4 linked regions of the Homo sapiens genome follow. The protein of the gene in region 4 interacts with the protein of the main gene of each other region in a pairwise test. Each region holds a gene or a part of one and is shown on either strand. Other genes may lie near its edges.

The links.
Region 1: the proteins of RALYL (region 4) and PSMF1 interact in a two-hybrid assay, tested with the Homo sapiens proteins (one large-scale study listed by BioGRID and IntAct).
Region 2: the proteins of RALYL (region 4) and ADISSP interact in a two-hybrid assay, tested with the Homo sapiens proteins (one large-scale study listed by BioGRID and IntAct).
Region 3: the proteins of RALYL (region 4) and AEBP2 interact in a two-hybrid assay, tested with the Homo sapiens proteins (one large-scale study listed by BioGRID and IntAct).

Annotation. Positions count from the first base shown.
Region 1 is NC_000020.11:1,117,129-1,121,410, reverse strand, and holds the start of PSMF1 (proteasome inhibitor PI31 subunit), read right to left. Parts: upstream 2,810-4,282; 5' UTR 2,638-2,809; coding exon 2,509-2,637; intron 1-2,508. UniProt on the Homo sapiens protein: Plays an important role in control of proteasome function. Inhibits the hydrolysis of protein and peptide substrates by the 20S proteasome. Also inhibits the activation of the proteasome by the proteasome regulatory proteins PA700 and PA28.
Region 2 is NC_000020.11:3,764,891-3,769,179, forward strand, and holds the start of ADISSP (adipose-secreted signaling protein), read right to left. Parts: upstream 2,864-4,289; 5' UTR 2,773-2,863; exon of another isoform or gene 2,319-2,772; intron 1-2,318. UniProt on the Homo sapiens protein: Adipocyte-secreted protein (adipokine) that acts as a key regulator for white adipose tissue (WAT) thermogenesis and glucose homeostasis at least in part through activation of protein kinase A (PKA).
Region 3 is NC_000012.12:19,459,934-19,463,497, forward strand, and holds part of AEBP2 (zinc finger protein AEBP2), read left to right. Parts: intron 1-2,576; coding exon 2,577-2,784; intron 2,785-3,564. UniProt on the Homo sapiens protein: Acts as an accessory subunit for the core Polycomb repressive complex 2 (PRC2), which mediates histone H3K27 (H3K27me3) trimethylation on chromatin leading to transcriptional repression of the affected target gene.
Region 4 is NC_000008.11:84,532,725-84,536,288, reverse strand, and holds part of RALYL (RNA-binding Raly-like protein), read right to left. Parts: intron 1-3,564.

The sequences.
Region 1 (4,282 bases), on a different chromosome or scaffold from region 4:
AAGGAGAAAAGGCAGAGAGAAGCAAAAATACACCACACTCTAGTTTGCAATCCAAACACTCATTCCTTCGGGGGCATGCAAGATTTAGTGCTGGGGTAGATAGAGGAAAGGTGGCAATGCCTTACAAAAACCTAATTCCCCAGGCTCCTGGGCCTCCCCAAAGATGTCTGAAACCAGCATCTTTTTCTGGCCTGCAGAAGCTCAACGAATAGCACCATGAACAGAGAAAAATTAGATGGACCTTGGGGAATTGGTCAAGGACCTTTTTAAAAAAAAAAAAAACTATTAAAATGAGATTGTATTCTTTCTGTACATTTCATCTGAAAATTTTGGAGCCTTGAGTGTATGGCAAGGTGGTAATGCCAGCTAGAAGGTATCGACTTATGTGAACTCATGTCCCTAAACTGTCAAAGTGATTCAGACAGCATGAGTGAGGGTAAGAAATGTAGGAGCAGATCCACAGTGATTGATATTTATTTGTGGAATGGCAAGGAGAGAAGGGTATCAGACACGCCCTCTAGAACAAGTTCCTCAGCAGAGGTGGATGGGGTTCTGACAGTGTGGCAGAGTCTAAGTAGCTAGCTAGGAGTAGGTAAGGGGAGTGAGGTACATGAGGAGGGACAGAGTGCAAAGCAGAGCTGTTCCATCTGAAGGACAAGACAAAGGGCAGGGGGAGCTGAGGGCCAATGGAGGAGATCCCAGGTCAAAATCAAATCTTACTCCTCTTCTCAGCCCCACTGTCCCCTGCACCATCCCACATACCAGTTTCTTTGAAGAATCTAGGAAAAGTTGAAATAAAATGACTGGGGCAAGTGAAGAGCTGCTTAAGATTAAAAAGCTGGAGTAAGACAAGTGGGGAGACAAGATTTCTGTTAGGGGAACTATGCATTGAAAGAGGGGCCTGACGCTGAAATGGGGGTGCTGTCTCTACCTGGTCCCAAGGTCTGAAATGCTGGAAGACATTTGGAAGGTATGTGGAATGAAGAGCAGCACAAAGAGAAAGGTCAGGGACAGATGTGTTTGGGAAGGTGAAATGATTCCTGCTTCCAGGTATGTGTGTGTGAAAGGCTAGCTGTTCTTTTCCATCCTCATATCTAGTCTTAGAGCCCATTTGAGAGATGAAGTATGTGTGAGTTTGGAGGTGGGAATGGGGATCCTGAGTGTGTACCTGGGGTCCCAGTGAGATAATTGAGGTCTGGGGAAAAAAAGAGCCAGAAATCCCTGACGGTTCTTGTGTTCTGATTCCTGCTGGAGGGGGTAAAGTGTGAGAGGGGTATGGTGGTCTTGGTCTTTAGTTCTAAGAGACAGAGAGGAATAGGGACAGCAGTGAGGGGTGGGGGAAAGGGGATACTTGTCTAAGTGCTCAGAATGTACAAAGCAAGTTTGAAGAGAGGTCCCTAAAGCTATGTCAGGAGGGGAGAATTAAGACTCTATTTGAGAAGCTAAAAAAAATGATTAGAGGAGTTGAGAACTGAAGCAGTCAAAAAGGAGAGGAAGGGTGAAATCTCATGGCAAGATGCAATAGGTGGGGTGGTCTGTTTCCCATGGCTAGTCTTGGTTCTGAGAGTGAGAGAACAGTGACAGTGAGGGGCAGGCATGGAGGCAGGCCCACTTCTCCCAGGAAGCAGATGTCTAGGATGATGTGGATGTTGGGGATGAGGGTCACAGGGAAGAGACAGGAAAGAAAGAAGAATGCCAGAGCAAAGAATTAGTGAGGTGGGTTGGGTCCAGCAGTCCTAGAACTCTGTGGGGATGACAACGACGTCCCTAGCTGTAAGAGGTGGAGCCTGGGGATGGGAGAAGAGGGGCTGGCCCTATGGGGACAACTATGAGGAGAAAATCTTATATGACCCTCACACCCAGGGTGTATGTGTGTACGACTCTGGGGGTGATTGCTTCCTAGAGCTTGAGTTGGGGATGGCAGTAGCGAGTGGACTATGCTGGGCCCTTCAGTAAAGGGTGAAAGGCGTGTGAACTCTCTGGGCCCATGCTAACGGGTGAAAAAAGGGCCCTGGCCTGGGGCTGAGTAGGTCAAAGCTCACTCCTGTACCTGTGCTTGGATCCAGATGTTTGGTGGAGGCTCTACTGTGGTATGAGGGCGGAACTGAGTCAGTCCCCTCACCCCGAGGCTGGGTGGTAAGGAGTTCAGACGGGATCAGGTGGGTGAGAAGTGCTCTGGGGAGCTAAACTCCTGTCTAGATTCTTTGCCATTCTATGGAATGCTAGATCCACACAGTCCTGGCCTGAGAGGCTGCCAGGCTGTGTTGAAGCGAGTGTCCGCCCTTGAGTTTACAAATCATGTTGTGCCAGCTGTGCCGTGAGGGACTCTGGGCTGGGATGGGGCAGGTGAGCAACCTCCGACCCGCAGGTTTTACCAACGCTGCCATCTGCCCCAGACCCTGCACTGGGAGAAGCGGGGAAATCGGGCGCTCTGGACCAGGCCTCCGGTACTCTGAGTTTGGGCAGAAGACAGTTCCCTCCTCCACCCTGGCCGGCTCCGTGGCGTACCTGGTCACCGACACCCAAGCCGAAGTAACCGTGTGTCACCACTTCCCAATGCAAGAAGCAGACGAGCGCGTCCTGCCTGCAGGTGATGGCCGGCGCTGCCGATGCGAACAGTACCTCCAGGCCCGCCATGAGCGCCCGCGACTTCGGCGTCTGGAGGAAAGAAGGGGGCGGGGGTAGTGCAGTGAGCCGGCTCCGCGGCCGGGGTAGCTATAACTCTGCTTCCCTCTTGCGCTGGTTCTTGCCGAGTCCACACCTGAGACCAAAATGGAGACGCCCGGGGACGGGGCGGGGCGGGGAAGCCGGAAGTAGTCCCAACAGCGGGCGCAACTGCGTGAGGCGCGCCGGGTTGGCAACGCGAGCGCAGCACTGAAAGGTTCCGCCAGGGAGTGCGAGCGGGGCGTGGCCCCTCAAAGCCGGAAGCCGGGTCTTGGCGGCAGTCGACAGGATCGCCTGACGCGGGCACAGCGTCCTCCAAGAGGCCACCTTGCTGAGAGGCAGACTTCCCATCCACAAAATGGGGTATGCTAGGCCGGGGAAGGGGCTGGGAAATGTGGCTAAAATACATTCTTAATAATCGTTAACACGTTCGCCGTGCTTGCTACCGTCCACATTATTCTAAACGCTTTACTTGTATTCATTTATTTAATCTTCACAACCCAACTCTATGCAGTTGATATTAACGATTAATGTGCCTCATTGCACAGATGAGGAAACTGAGGCGCAGAGGGATAATTTGACCAAGATGACAACAGCCAGCCGGTGAACGGCTGAAATGGTTATGGGAACCTGGCAGTCTGGCTTCTAAGATAACATTTATTAAGTGTTTATTGTGTGCTACATCGTGCGCTAAAACCTTTACATCACCCTCTCAACAACTCTATGAAGTATGGACCGTTATTATCCCCATTTTGCAGATGACAAAACGGCTCAGAGTTGAAACCACTTCTCCAAGGAGACACAACTGCTGCCCGCAGAGCTGAAGCTCCTGACCCACTATCAAATTTCAATCATTTATTTGCCTACCCCCTTTATGATTTTTACCACCCGTTACTTCAACAAGTTTCATGAAATCCACTTATTGTTTTTACCCAAATAAATTTAGTTTCCCCATCCCAGTCACTAACCTGGTTCAAGCTCCTGTCATCTTTCACTTGGATGCCTGGCATCAGCCTCAGAACTGCCCCATTCCATTCCTGTCTCTCTCTAGTCTGTACTGCACTCCGCAACCAGAGAGATTCTGTTAGAAAACAAGTCAGATCGGCCAGGTGTGGCGGCTCATGCCTGTAATCCCAGCACTTTGTGAGGCCGAGGCAGGCGGATCACTTGAGGTCAGGAGTTTGAGACCAGCCTGGCCAACATGGTGAAACCCTGTCTCTACTAAAAATACAAAAATTAGCTGGGTGTGGTGGCGCACGCCTTTAGTCCCAGGTACTCGGGAGGCTGAGGCATGAGAATCAATCGAACCCGGGAGGTGGAGGTGGAGGTTGCAGTGAGCCAAGATCGCACCATTGCACTTCAGCCTGGGCAACAGAGCGATCTTCTGTCTCAAAAAAGAAAAAAAAAAAAAAAGAAAAGTCAGATCACATCCGTTGGCTCAAAATCGTCACACTCAATGGAAAAGTAAAGTCCTCCCCATGGTCTGCAGGAATCTGCATGTGGTCTGCCATCTCCTGCCCCAGCCCTGCCAGCCCTGTACCTCTCTGATTCAGTCTCCTTCAACTGTCCTCTCATCCCCTTTATACGTGCAATAACCTTGGCTCCCCCTCTTCTCTCA
Region 2 (4,289 bases), on a different chromosome or scaffold from region 4:
TCTCCCTGGCCCCCACCAAGTGGCCTCCCACTGGGACTCCTCAGGCCTTGCTGCAGTCAGCTGGTTACCTGTCCATGCCTGCTTTGAGAGGGACATGCCCCATGCCCACTGAGGGTAGGACCCACATCTCATGCAGTGCCAGTACTCAGTAAAGGGCAAACACTGAGGGCCTGTAACCCTCTGGATAGTGACAACATAGAGGCAGGAAGCAAGGGACTTCAGGAACCCAAAGGAAACTGGGAAAACCAAACCTCCTTTCTCAATGGAGAACCTGCTGGTCGCTGTCCTCGGGGAGCTAGACTCTTGTGCACACACAATTCCTCATCAGAAACAGGCAAAGAGGGCACTGGGCCTCCCCTGCTGCAGCTGTGTCCACAGAGAACAGCTAGGCCACCACACAACCCCAAGCCTGGCCCTGCCTCCAGCCTCCTCCTGTGCCAACCAAGGCCTCACCATGGCTCAATCCACATGGCCCCCAGAGGCAGCAGTCCTGGTTCAAATTCAGGATCTGCCCTTGCTAGCTGCATGGGTGAGTTCTTTCACTTCTCTGTCCCTGTTTCCTAATGTGTAACACAGGAATAAGCAGTGGCCTCTTCCTTCCAGGGTTTGCTGCAACTGTGCCTGAAGCTCTGTGACAATGCACCCCCCATCTCTGCAAAAGCAAACCCCCAAAGGCCTGGTTTCTAAAGCAACAGCAGTTTCAGCAGCACCGTCAGAGAGGCACTTCAGGCCAATCCTGGAGGAGCCAGGAGTGACCCTTAGAGTGGGCCCCAGGGACGTCAGCCTTCTTGGAAAACAGCTCAAGGGGTGAGGGGGCCTCCCTCCTCCTGCCTCCCCCTTCTCCCACTCCCAAAGCAGCCAGGTCCCTAGGGAGGGTCAGAGAACAGATGCTGGGAGTTTCCAGTCCCCCTAACCAGAGGGGGTCACAAGGAAGATGTGCAGAATGAACATCCTGGGAAACTGGGAAATGACTAGGGAGGAACATGGTGCCTCCCCGCCAGCAAAAAAAATTATACCCTTCCCCATGAGATGGAGTGTCAGCAAGCTTCCAGGCCCCAGCCCAGGGTGCAGGAAGAGGAGCTACACCCATTCACCTCTGGTCAGCATGCTCCCAACGTCTGAGACCTCATTTCTCATTCCTTCTTCAGTCCCCATTCTCATTGTGGTTCGAGGTCTTTCTCTCTGAGCCAGGAACTCCGCAACCTTCCACCCTCCCTACCTCTTCCTCTCCTACCCCAGCCTGGGGCTCAGTCCTGGCTCAAGCACTCAGTCCAGCAGAAGCACTGTGTAGCCTCCCATTAAAGCTCACGCCTGTGAAAAGAACAGCCATTGAGGCCTTGAGATGGGGCCACACTGACCCGCTGACTCTCAGGACTGGACACAGCAGAGGCCACACATACTCAGAACAAAGCCTGGAAAGGCAAGGCTGGAGGTCAGTAGTTGTGGCAGCTTCACATCAACTCAGCTTTAATGTGATTTAATTTCCTTCTCCCTCCAGTGGGCCAAAGGTGCAAAGATAAGTATGGCTGTTCTCTCTCCTTCTAACAGTGAGGTGCTGGGGGTGGGGGTGGGGGAATATGGAGAAGGGACCCTCACCACCCACACCTTCCTGCCTCCCCAACAAGTGCTGCCCTCCTCTGCCCAGCATTCTCCCCACTTTGCCCTCAGCTAGTGGGTGCTTAGCCTCCAGATAGCATGCCCCACCTAGGCCCTGCCCTGGGCCTGTGATCCAGAGGTCCCAAGAAGCAGAGGCCAGGCTGGATCCAGGGGGTCAGCCAAGGTGAGGGTGGGAGCACACAGGATTATCTCCCAGGGACAGGGCTGCTGCCTCGTAGCTCAGGATGGATAGAATGTGGGGGGATATCCAGCTACATTTTCCCTCCACAAAAGACCAGAATGGGAGAGGGATGGGGTGCTGCCCCGACTTTCTTCAACTCCCCGGAGCAGAAAAATGCCCTACCTCCACTTTCCAGTGCCAAGATTCAAGAAGAAAGGCAAGCGGAGACTTCCCTTTCTCAGTCCCTGCTTACTAATGGAAACACGGGTCCAGAACCTAAATCCAGTCCCTCCTCCTTCATACCACCGGGAGGGAGGTGCAGCCCAAGCCCCCGAGGCCCCAAGGGTCCAGGTGTAGGACCCTTTATCCTCTCCGGCAGCCATCCCTGTGGGTGTGGCACCCCCGCCACACCCCATTCTTGTCATCTCAGGGGGAGGGGGGAAATGTAATCGGACATCCCCCCCATCCAATCCATCCTGAGCTGCGAGGCGGCGGCTCTGTCCCTCGGAGATAATCCTGTGCACTCCCCACCTTCACTCACCTCGGCTGACGCAGGAGTCTCCGGAGCCCGCACTCCCAGACATCACTGCCCTCCTTCCTGAGGGTGCTGAGGCTCGGAGGCTCAGAGATGCTACTGGTCCAAGGTCATGCAGCGAGGCAGCGGCAATGAACAGGGTCGTGGGGAGGAGGGGGCGCTGACCCCATTACGCCCCCGCCCTCACTACCGCACTCATGCCCCCGGACAATCGCTTCGCGGAAAACACCCCAGCTGCACCAGCTAACGGTCACTGCGCCCCGGGAACCTGACATCACTCTAGTTCAGGTGCTGGGGAGTCCTCCAGGCCCGGCCCCGACAGCGGAGCCCCCCACCCCAGCCCTGCCATCACGGCCGCTGGGGTCCCAGGCACTGACTGCTCAGGACAGGGCCGGGACCGGGAGGGGACCTCGGCGAACGGGAAGGAACCGGGAGGCAGGGAGCAGAGGGGTGGCCTCACCTTGCGGGGTGCACCCCGGGGCCGGGGAGGGCAGGGACGACCACTGCAGCGGCGGCGGCTGCAGGAGCTCAACGCCGAGCACGAGGAAGGGAGCCCCGCGCCGCGGCCGCCCTCCCGTCGGCACGCCCCCGCCTCCGCCCATTGGTTGATCTGGGAGGGTGGGGCGAGGGACGCTCCGGACCAATGAGCGGGCTCCAAAGAACGGCCAACTGGCGAGGGCCGCCTACGTCACGTGCCAGGGTCGCCGAGGCAGCGCCCTGCTAGTCCGCGCCTGCCGGGCGAGCTCTCGCGAGGAAGACGGGCAGGCGGCCCAACTAGGCCAGGGGCCAGAACCGACCACTCGAAGAGGGAGAAGGAGGGCCTCGGATAGGCCCCGCCCCCGCTCCTTCTTCCGCCTGGGGGATAGCGCCTCTAGCCTTGAACCTTGCTTAGGACGCACCTCCCTTGGGCCCTTCGCTCTCGGGAGGGCTGTCGGGCGCGTCTCGGGGCTGGGTGGAGCTCCCGAAGGTGGCCTTTCTCCCTGGGCTTCCACGCCGGCTTCGGCCATCGATACGGGCCGTGTTGGTCTCGTTCAGGAGCTGAGGAACCCTCCATCACTCCTGTTTCGACCCCAGGGTTTGGACCTCTTCCCCTTCCACCCCATCCCCTGTCTCGAAAGAAGCAACCCCCGTGCGGGCCCGAGACGCGTCCCGGGTGCCTGGCCCGGCCTGGAGAAGCATCAGAACAAAGAAGGCACGCGGGCTGGGGGCTGGGAGAGCCTGTGACGCGCCCCCGGGGACCGCAGCCTCTGCTCCCGGTCTCCATGGAGGCGGTCGCCATGGCAGCGAGATGCGCCTCGCTCAGCACCGCGGGGTGGGATGTGGGCGCCTGCAATGAGCCGAGGAGCGAGAGGCGTGGCCCTCCGGTCTGCGGGGGTTCTTGCCGGTGCTCTCCGCCCGCCGGTTCGCGAACACCCCACCTATACTTCGCCCGTGGGGACGGATTCCCCAAAGTGCCCTCAGTAAGCCGTCCGGAGCACGCAGCGCCTTGCTTCCAACGGAACTAGAGAGACGGCCTGGGCGGCCGAAGGCCAGCCTCCCTTCAGCAGGGCCGGGGTCGCTGCCTTAAAGGAGCCCTCAAGTCTGCCACCCTGTGGCCCATAACCTGTCTGCTGATCTCCAGTCTGCACACTGTTGGCAAATTAATCTTTCTGAGCTCTTGTTTTCATCGCGTCCCTCTCCTGCTCCAAAGCCCTCTGGGACTGCCTCCAGTAGCGCTTCACAAACTTCAGCAGCACTTTGGGTGACTCATGTGCCCTCGCGTTTGAGAGACAGCGCTTACATTGAGAGCTTTTCACATTCTGATCTCAGCCCATCCACTCCTGCCCACTCTACCCACTCCCACCACACTACCTTTAGACCTTGTCTTGAAAGTCTAAAGTTGGCAGACGGTGGGCCCAAAGTGGCCCGTAGGTGTATTTTGTTTAGCTCACATGGGGCTTTTTAAAAGAAGTCCTTCCCCCTCCTGCCTCCTCCGCC
Region 3 (3,564 bases), on a different chromosome or scaffold from region 4:
AAAATTAGCTCGGTGCAGTGGCTAATGCCTGTAGTCCCAGTACTTTGGGAGGCCAAGGCAGGAGGATTGCTTGAGCCCAGCCTGGACAACATAAAGAGACCTCATCTCTACAGAAATTTAAAAAATTTAGTTGGCCATAGTGGTGCACACCTGTAGGCCCGGCTACTCAGGAGGCTGAGGTGGGAGGATCACTTGAGCCTGGTAGGTCAAGGCTGCAATGAGCCGTGATAGCACCACCGCACTATAGGCTTGGCAACGGAGTGAAGACCCTGTCTTAACATCCCCCCACCCCTCACAATAGGTACATTTGATGTTAGACACAGATCATTATAAAGCTTACTTAAGCTAACAAAATTCATGTAAATTTTCTCAGGTGTGAGTGAATAGGTTGTATTGGTATATAGGTGAACGTTCTTTTTGTTTTTTGAGACAGAGTCTCGCTCTGTCGCCCAGGCTCGAGTGCAGTGGCGTTACCTTGGCTCACTGCAACCTCCTACTGCAACCTCCTCCTCCCAGGTTCAAGCAATTCTCTGTCTCAGCCTCCCGAGTAGCTGGGATTACAGGCGTGTGCCACCATGCCCAGCTGATTTTTGTATTTTTAGTAGAGATGTGGTTTCACCATCTTGATCAGGCTGGTCTTGAACTCCTGACCTTGTGATCCACCCACCTCGGCCTCCCAGAGTGCTGGGATTATAGGCGTGAGCCACCACGCCCGGCCTGAAAGTTTTTTTTTTTTTTTGAGACAGAGTCTAGCTCTGTCGCCCAGGTTGGAGTCCAGTGCCGCTATCTCTGCTCACAGCAGTCTCCGCCTCCTGGGTTCACACCATTCTCCTGCCTCAGTCTCCCGAGTAGCTGGGACTGCAGGCGCACACTACCATGCCTGGCTAATTTTTTATATTTTTAGTAGAGACAGGGTTTCACCATGTTAGCCAGGATGGTCTCGATCTCCTGATCTTGTGATCTGCCTGCTGCGGCCTCCCAAAGTGCTGCGATTACAGGCATGCGCCACTGTGCCCGGCCTGAATGTTCTTTTTTTTTAAGAAGGTATATACTGTGGTTGATTGTCATGATGCCTGCAATTTTAAAATGATTCAGAGAAACAGATTACAGATAGCAAATAGGGTAAAATGTTAATTGAATTCAGATTTAGCTGTATTTTGTGTCTTTGAACTTTTCCATGATAAAAACTTGGCGGGAGGGAAACATACCTCTTTAAAGTTAATATAATTTTCACAACTTGACTTGTGTTGTTTCTTAAATTGCAAGCAGATACACACCTTTTCATAGATTTAATCTGAAAACATTCTTTCTCTTGACCCTTATGATTGAAGTGACTTTCATGTAATTTATTTATTGAGAAGATTTTGAAAAAAGAAAATAAGTGAATTGCTTTTAAAATGAAGGCGGAAGTGTGATACATTTTATTAAGATGTGAATTTTTGAGCATTTTGACCACTAGTATATACTTTTTTTAGTAAATAAAAGAGTTACTACTGTGTAATACTTTATTTTATTTTTTGAGATGGTGTTTTGCTCTTGTTGACCAGGCTGGAGTGCAATGGCGTGATACTTTATTTTATTTTATTTTATTTTTTGAGACGGAGTTTTGCTCGTTGACCAGGTTGGAGTGCAATGGTGCGATCTCGGCTCACTCCAACCTCCGCCTCCTGGGTTCAAGAGATTCTCCTGCCTCAGCCTCCTGAGTAGCTGGGATTACAGGCACCTGCCACCACACCCGGATAATTTTTTGTATTTTTAGTAGCAGTGGGATTTCACCATGTTGGCCAGGCTGGTTTCAAACTCCTGGCATCAGGTAGTCCACCCGCCTCGGCCTCCCAAAGTGCTGGAATTACAGGAGTGAGCCACTGCGTCCAGCCATATGTAATACTTTAGTAAATAAAAAGTAAAAGGGATTGATTGGCATTTTCAGTCTTTTTTTTTATGGCTAGAGATGAGTTAAAAAAATAAAATTTTAGGGCTAGGAAAAGATTTTTTATTTGGACTTTAGAAAAATCAGAGACCAGTTTTCTCTCTTCTGCTTTTTTATTTAGCTGGGAAAATACTGCAAAATTTCCCCAATTCTTTGACATGAAAAGAAGTAGGATGTGGCAGCAGTTATATTTTCAGATTAATGAATAGAAGAGATTTCAGGTCAACAAGTGATTTGCAGAGCTATAAAGATAATGCTTTGATTGTGAATTATTTACAGCTGGAAACTCTTACTTTCTTATGCTTCTTTGAACTGTAGAAGGGATGAGATGTGATAAGCTGTGTGTGTGGGGGTGTGGGTGTGGTTTGTTTTCTGTAAGATGTAGTATTGAGTTCATGCCTGCCAAAAGTTGCTTAAATTATTCCATTTCTGATTTTGAGGTACTGTCGTGTTTCTGTCTTGATTTGTACTTCATTGCCAACTAATTAATTTAAAAGCATTGTTGTTTTCTCATGGAGAATATGGTTACTATGCTTTGTTCACATGGAGCAGAATGTCAAGTGGTAATCTTAATTAAATATTTATAAGATCATATTCATGTTAGTGAATTTCTAGGAATAACACAGCCTTTTTTCTTCTTTTGTAGCATAAGCAGTACTATAATGGATGTAGACAGCACAATTTCCAGTGGGCGTTCAACTCCAGCAATGATGAATGGACAAGGAAGCACTACTTCTTCAAGCAAAAATATTGCCTATAATTGTTGTTGGGACCAGTGCCAGGCTTGCTTCAACTCTAGCCCAGATCTGGCAGATCACATCCGTTCCATACATGTAGATGGTCAGCGAGGAGGGGTTGGTTTTGTCATTTCTTTTTTTCGCTCCCTGTTTTCGTTAGTTTTATTAATTTATAATTGCTAGTTAGGCTTTTTTGCTGAAAGTAATTTGGGATTATTTTTACACAGGCTTAGTTTTTTCAAGTGAATTTTTAATAATTATTTCCCATATACTTGATAGAATCAAATAAAAATAGGGTATGTGCTGGATTTTAGTTTGTTTTTAGATACGTTATTTTGAAGAAATTAGACTTTTAAAAGTATAGTAGGTGACAGTATTATTAATGAATACAGTGTATTCCAGGGTTCTGATGTTTTGAGTTGAGAACATTTAGAATTAGCACTTTCTTGATTTTCCTTTGTTAGAGGATCCTAAATTATTCCTGACGCTTAAATTAACTGGGGAGACTATTGGTACCAGGATTAGTGTATGCAATTCTATTAAATAACAACCTGAACTCATTATTTGTGAGTGAGAATTGATCATCTTTCCCAGGTCTTGTCAGAGCTGATTTAGATGGAAAGTTCTGATTAGTTAGTATTGACCTATATGTCCTTTCAGGAATACATTTAATTGTGTCAGTTCATGTAACTTCTATTAGGTACTGAATAAAGAGCTAAGCAAATTGGGTAAGCCAAAAGTAATGTGCCAAAATATTAATTTATACATTGTTTCAACTTTACCTAGAATTTTGTTGAATAGTTATCACACTTAGTGCATTTTTCAGAAATTAATGTCACAGTGTAAGGGCAGGTAATTTATTAATATTAGGCCACACATTTCCTATCAGCCTGGCAT
Region 4 (3,564 bases):
TCTTGGTACTCCGTATTTTTCACTTAACTCTTCCATGATACTTTCTTTTTCTTCATCATTTCTAGTGGCGATTAGACATGTTTGAATGGAGGGATCTAACGGAGAAAAATCACACCTCTAAAAGTCAGTGTATTAAAGATGTGAAGAGACAGAAGGCTTTGTAACAAACTGGTGATATAAGTGGGTAAGCTATGGTCATGAATACATTAAAATTGCCCTGAAACGCACTTACTGAGTTTTATTTCCTGAACAATTGGAAAAGATACATTCTTATTATAAATTATGAGTTACTGTCAAAATAATTCAAAGCATTGTTTTAATATAGTTTATCCTAAGACCATTAGAACAATTCTGAAAATTAATGGAGTTTATTTTGGTATGATTACCCTACAACAGTAATTCTTAACTGGAGTGATTTTGCCTCCCAGGAGACATTTGGTAACATGGAGACAATTTTTGGCTGTCACTATTTGGAAGGGGTACTATAGGTATCTTGCAGGTAGAAGTCAGGGATGCGGCCGGGCGCGGTGGCTCACGCCTGTAATCCAGCACTTTGGGAGGCCGAGGTGGGCGGATCACGAGGCCAGGAGATCAAGACCGTCCTGGCTAACACGGTGAAAAACCCATCTCTACTAAAAATACAAAAAATAAAATAAAATAAAATAAAATAAAATAAAATAAAATAATTAGCCGGGCGTGGTGGCAGGCACCTGTAGCTCCAGCTACTCAGGAGGCTGAGGCAGGAGAATGGCGTGAACCCAGGAGGCGGAGCTTGCAGTGAGCCGAGACAGCGCCACTGCACTCCAGCCTGGGCGACAGAGCGAGACTCCGTCTCAAAAAAAAAAAAAAAGGCAGGGATGCTACTAACATCCTACCATGCACAGGACAGGCTCCACAAACAAAGCAAAATCAATGAGAGTAACTTTTTACTCTCAAAAGTATTACTGTTTGGATGACAGAGTTGATGATCACTCTGCTGAAATGGAATAAATTTCTGGAAAGAGAAATAGTAAAAATAATTACGGTCAGAAAATGTGAGCCAACAATCTTGCACCACCATTTGTGTGATATAGACTAAGTTCATTTCTCTGTGCTTTGGCTCCTAACCAGCAGAATGGGCGTAAATACTAATATTATTTATTGGCATTGTTGTGAAAATCAAAGAAGATAATATGTGCATGAAAGAACTTTGACAATGATGAAGTGCCATGCAAATATCCAGCTATTAATAAGAGAAAACTATGAAAGGATGACATTTTAAGGAATGTGTAGGAAGTTTTTCATGAATAGAAATCTTTCTTCAAACCAATATATCCTTCACTCTAACTTTTGAATAAAGTATATATGTGTTAATATTTCATGCTTATTAAAGATTGGATTATATTTATAAAAAACTGAAATCAGGCCTACGAAACAGTTACCTTTGGAATGTCTGTTGAAGAATTTCAAGATTAAATACCTAGTCTCCTTAGCAAGCTGATCATGATCACTTTGCCTTCGCTTAGCAGCAACCCCAACTATATCGCCTCACTTTCTGGGGAACTTGTAATTGCCACTTCTCCTTCCTTCTTCTCCCTGTTCTCTTCTTATTTCTCCTCCTCCTGCTTCTTTGTCTTCTTCCTGTGGTGCTCTTTTCCATGTGAGGGACCCCTTTAGCCAAGTCCATCCATTCCTCCTACTAACCATCTATCCAATCATTCATCCAGTACATCCTCACTGAGCATTTGCCATGGAAGTGTTAGCATTTTGTTAGGTGCTAAGAAGATGAGTAAAAACATATATATTCCGTGCCCTAAAAAACTTATAGCTTAGAGGGAGAAGGGACAGATATCAATTACAAAATAATAAATATAAAAATACAATTGAAAAGAAGATACTTGCTAGAAAGTGAAGTAAAACACTCCAGCTAGCTTTGAGGGACACAAGTAGGTTTCACTAAAGTACTGAAATTTCATTTGAGATCTGAAGAATGATTAGCCAGGCAAAAGGGATTAAGTGGGGAAGTAGGGTGAGGTGGTGCAGAGCTTCATAGGGAAGAACTTTCTGAGCAGTCAAGATAGCATGTGCACAGGCCCTGTTGGGCGATAGAACACAAGTTGTTCAAAGAACTGAAAGAAGTGAATGTAGTTGTAGCTCTAAGCAAGGCTGATGGGGCTATGATGTGAGTCTGCAGGTGACAAAGAAACAAATGAGGTAGAAACTTGTAGCCCACAGCAAAGGTTTCATTCTTTTTTCTGAGAACAATGAGAAATCCCTGAAAGTTTTAAAAGACAGTGACATGATTAGATTTGCATTTTGAAAAGATCACTCTGGATGCAAAACAGTTGGGGATGAAAAGACATTTGAAATCCATTGCTCTCAGCACATGCTTGACGGGAATTGTTACAAGCATTTGAATGTTCTCTTCTTTGTTCTTATATCTCTCTCAAACATCTTCCTCTCTACTAAGACAATTCCATTACTTCCTTCAGGATCTAGTTAAGTATATTCACCATATTTACTTTAAAATTTACCATCCCTATTCATCATGTTCCCACTTTGAATTCTTTCTGCATTTGCAAGACACTTACAATGTGATACAATTAATTTAATTCTCTGCTTTATATATTCTTTTCCTAAAGCACACTTTGCTTCTTAAGGACAGGGGCCTGCATATGGGTTTCAGAACAAAAATGATTGCTCTAGATAAATTATTTTTCAGTGTTTGGTTCCTCCTACTATCCACAGCTGGCTTCTCAAGTTCATAAATTGTATCTTTTACAAGCATTGTAACAGTAAAATAATCCGAATATAAAGAAAGACATTGCAAATGTTTATTTATAGCATGTCTGTAATCAAGCCAATGTAATCAATAGATACATAAAATTGGCACTGTCTAGTCTTAGTCTCTAACCTCTGCATAACATTTTGTGTAAAAGGACACTTCGTATGTGACTACTCATAAAAATTGTCTCTATTAAGCATTTAAAATGTTTTTATCTCGCATATAATGTGTTTGAGGAAAAAAGTTCTAATGACTACACTTAGATTGAAAAATGCAATAAATATTTCCAATATTAACAAACTTAGAATTCAAACTCAATTAAATATTAAGAGGATATGTTAAATTTCACCTGCTTATATTTAAATTGTATTAAAATCAATTAAATAACCAAATATAGACGTAAAGTTTTATGAGGATTTTTACATTATAGGAATTGTGATTTAAAAAAATTCTGAATAATGAATAATTTCATAGATAGATTCTGACATTTTAGGAATCCCTAAGTAATATGAGTCAAAATGCAATCTTTTTTGTTTTTCCACAGAGGTTTTAGCAGTCTTCTATTATATATCAAAGACAGAAGCTAAGAATAAACATGGATACCCTCTATCATGGTGCGAAAGACGTGCCAAACAACTGGAAATGTATAAGAAAGTAAATTAAATTATGGCCAAGTTATCTATAGTCTTCATAAAACTTTAAGAACTGACATTAGAGTGTTTAATTTTTCCTGGTACTACTGATGTTTAATTTTTAATCTCTAAATCATATATAAATATTTTAAACATGCAGTAAATAAA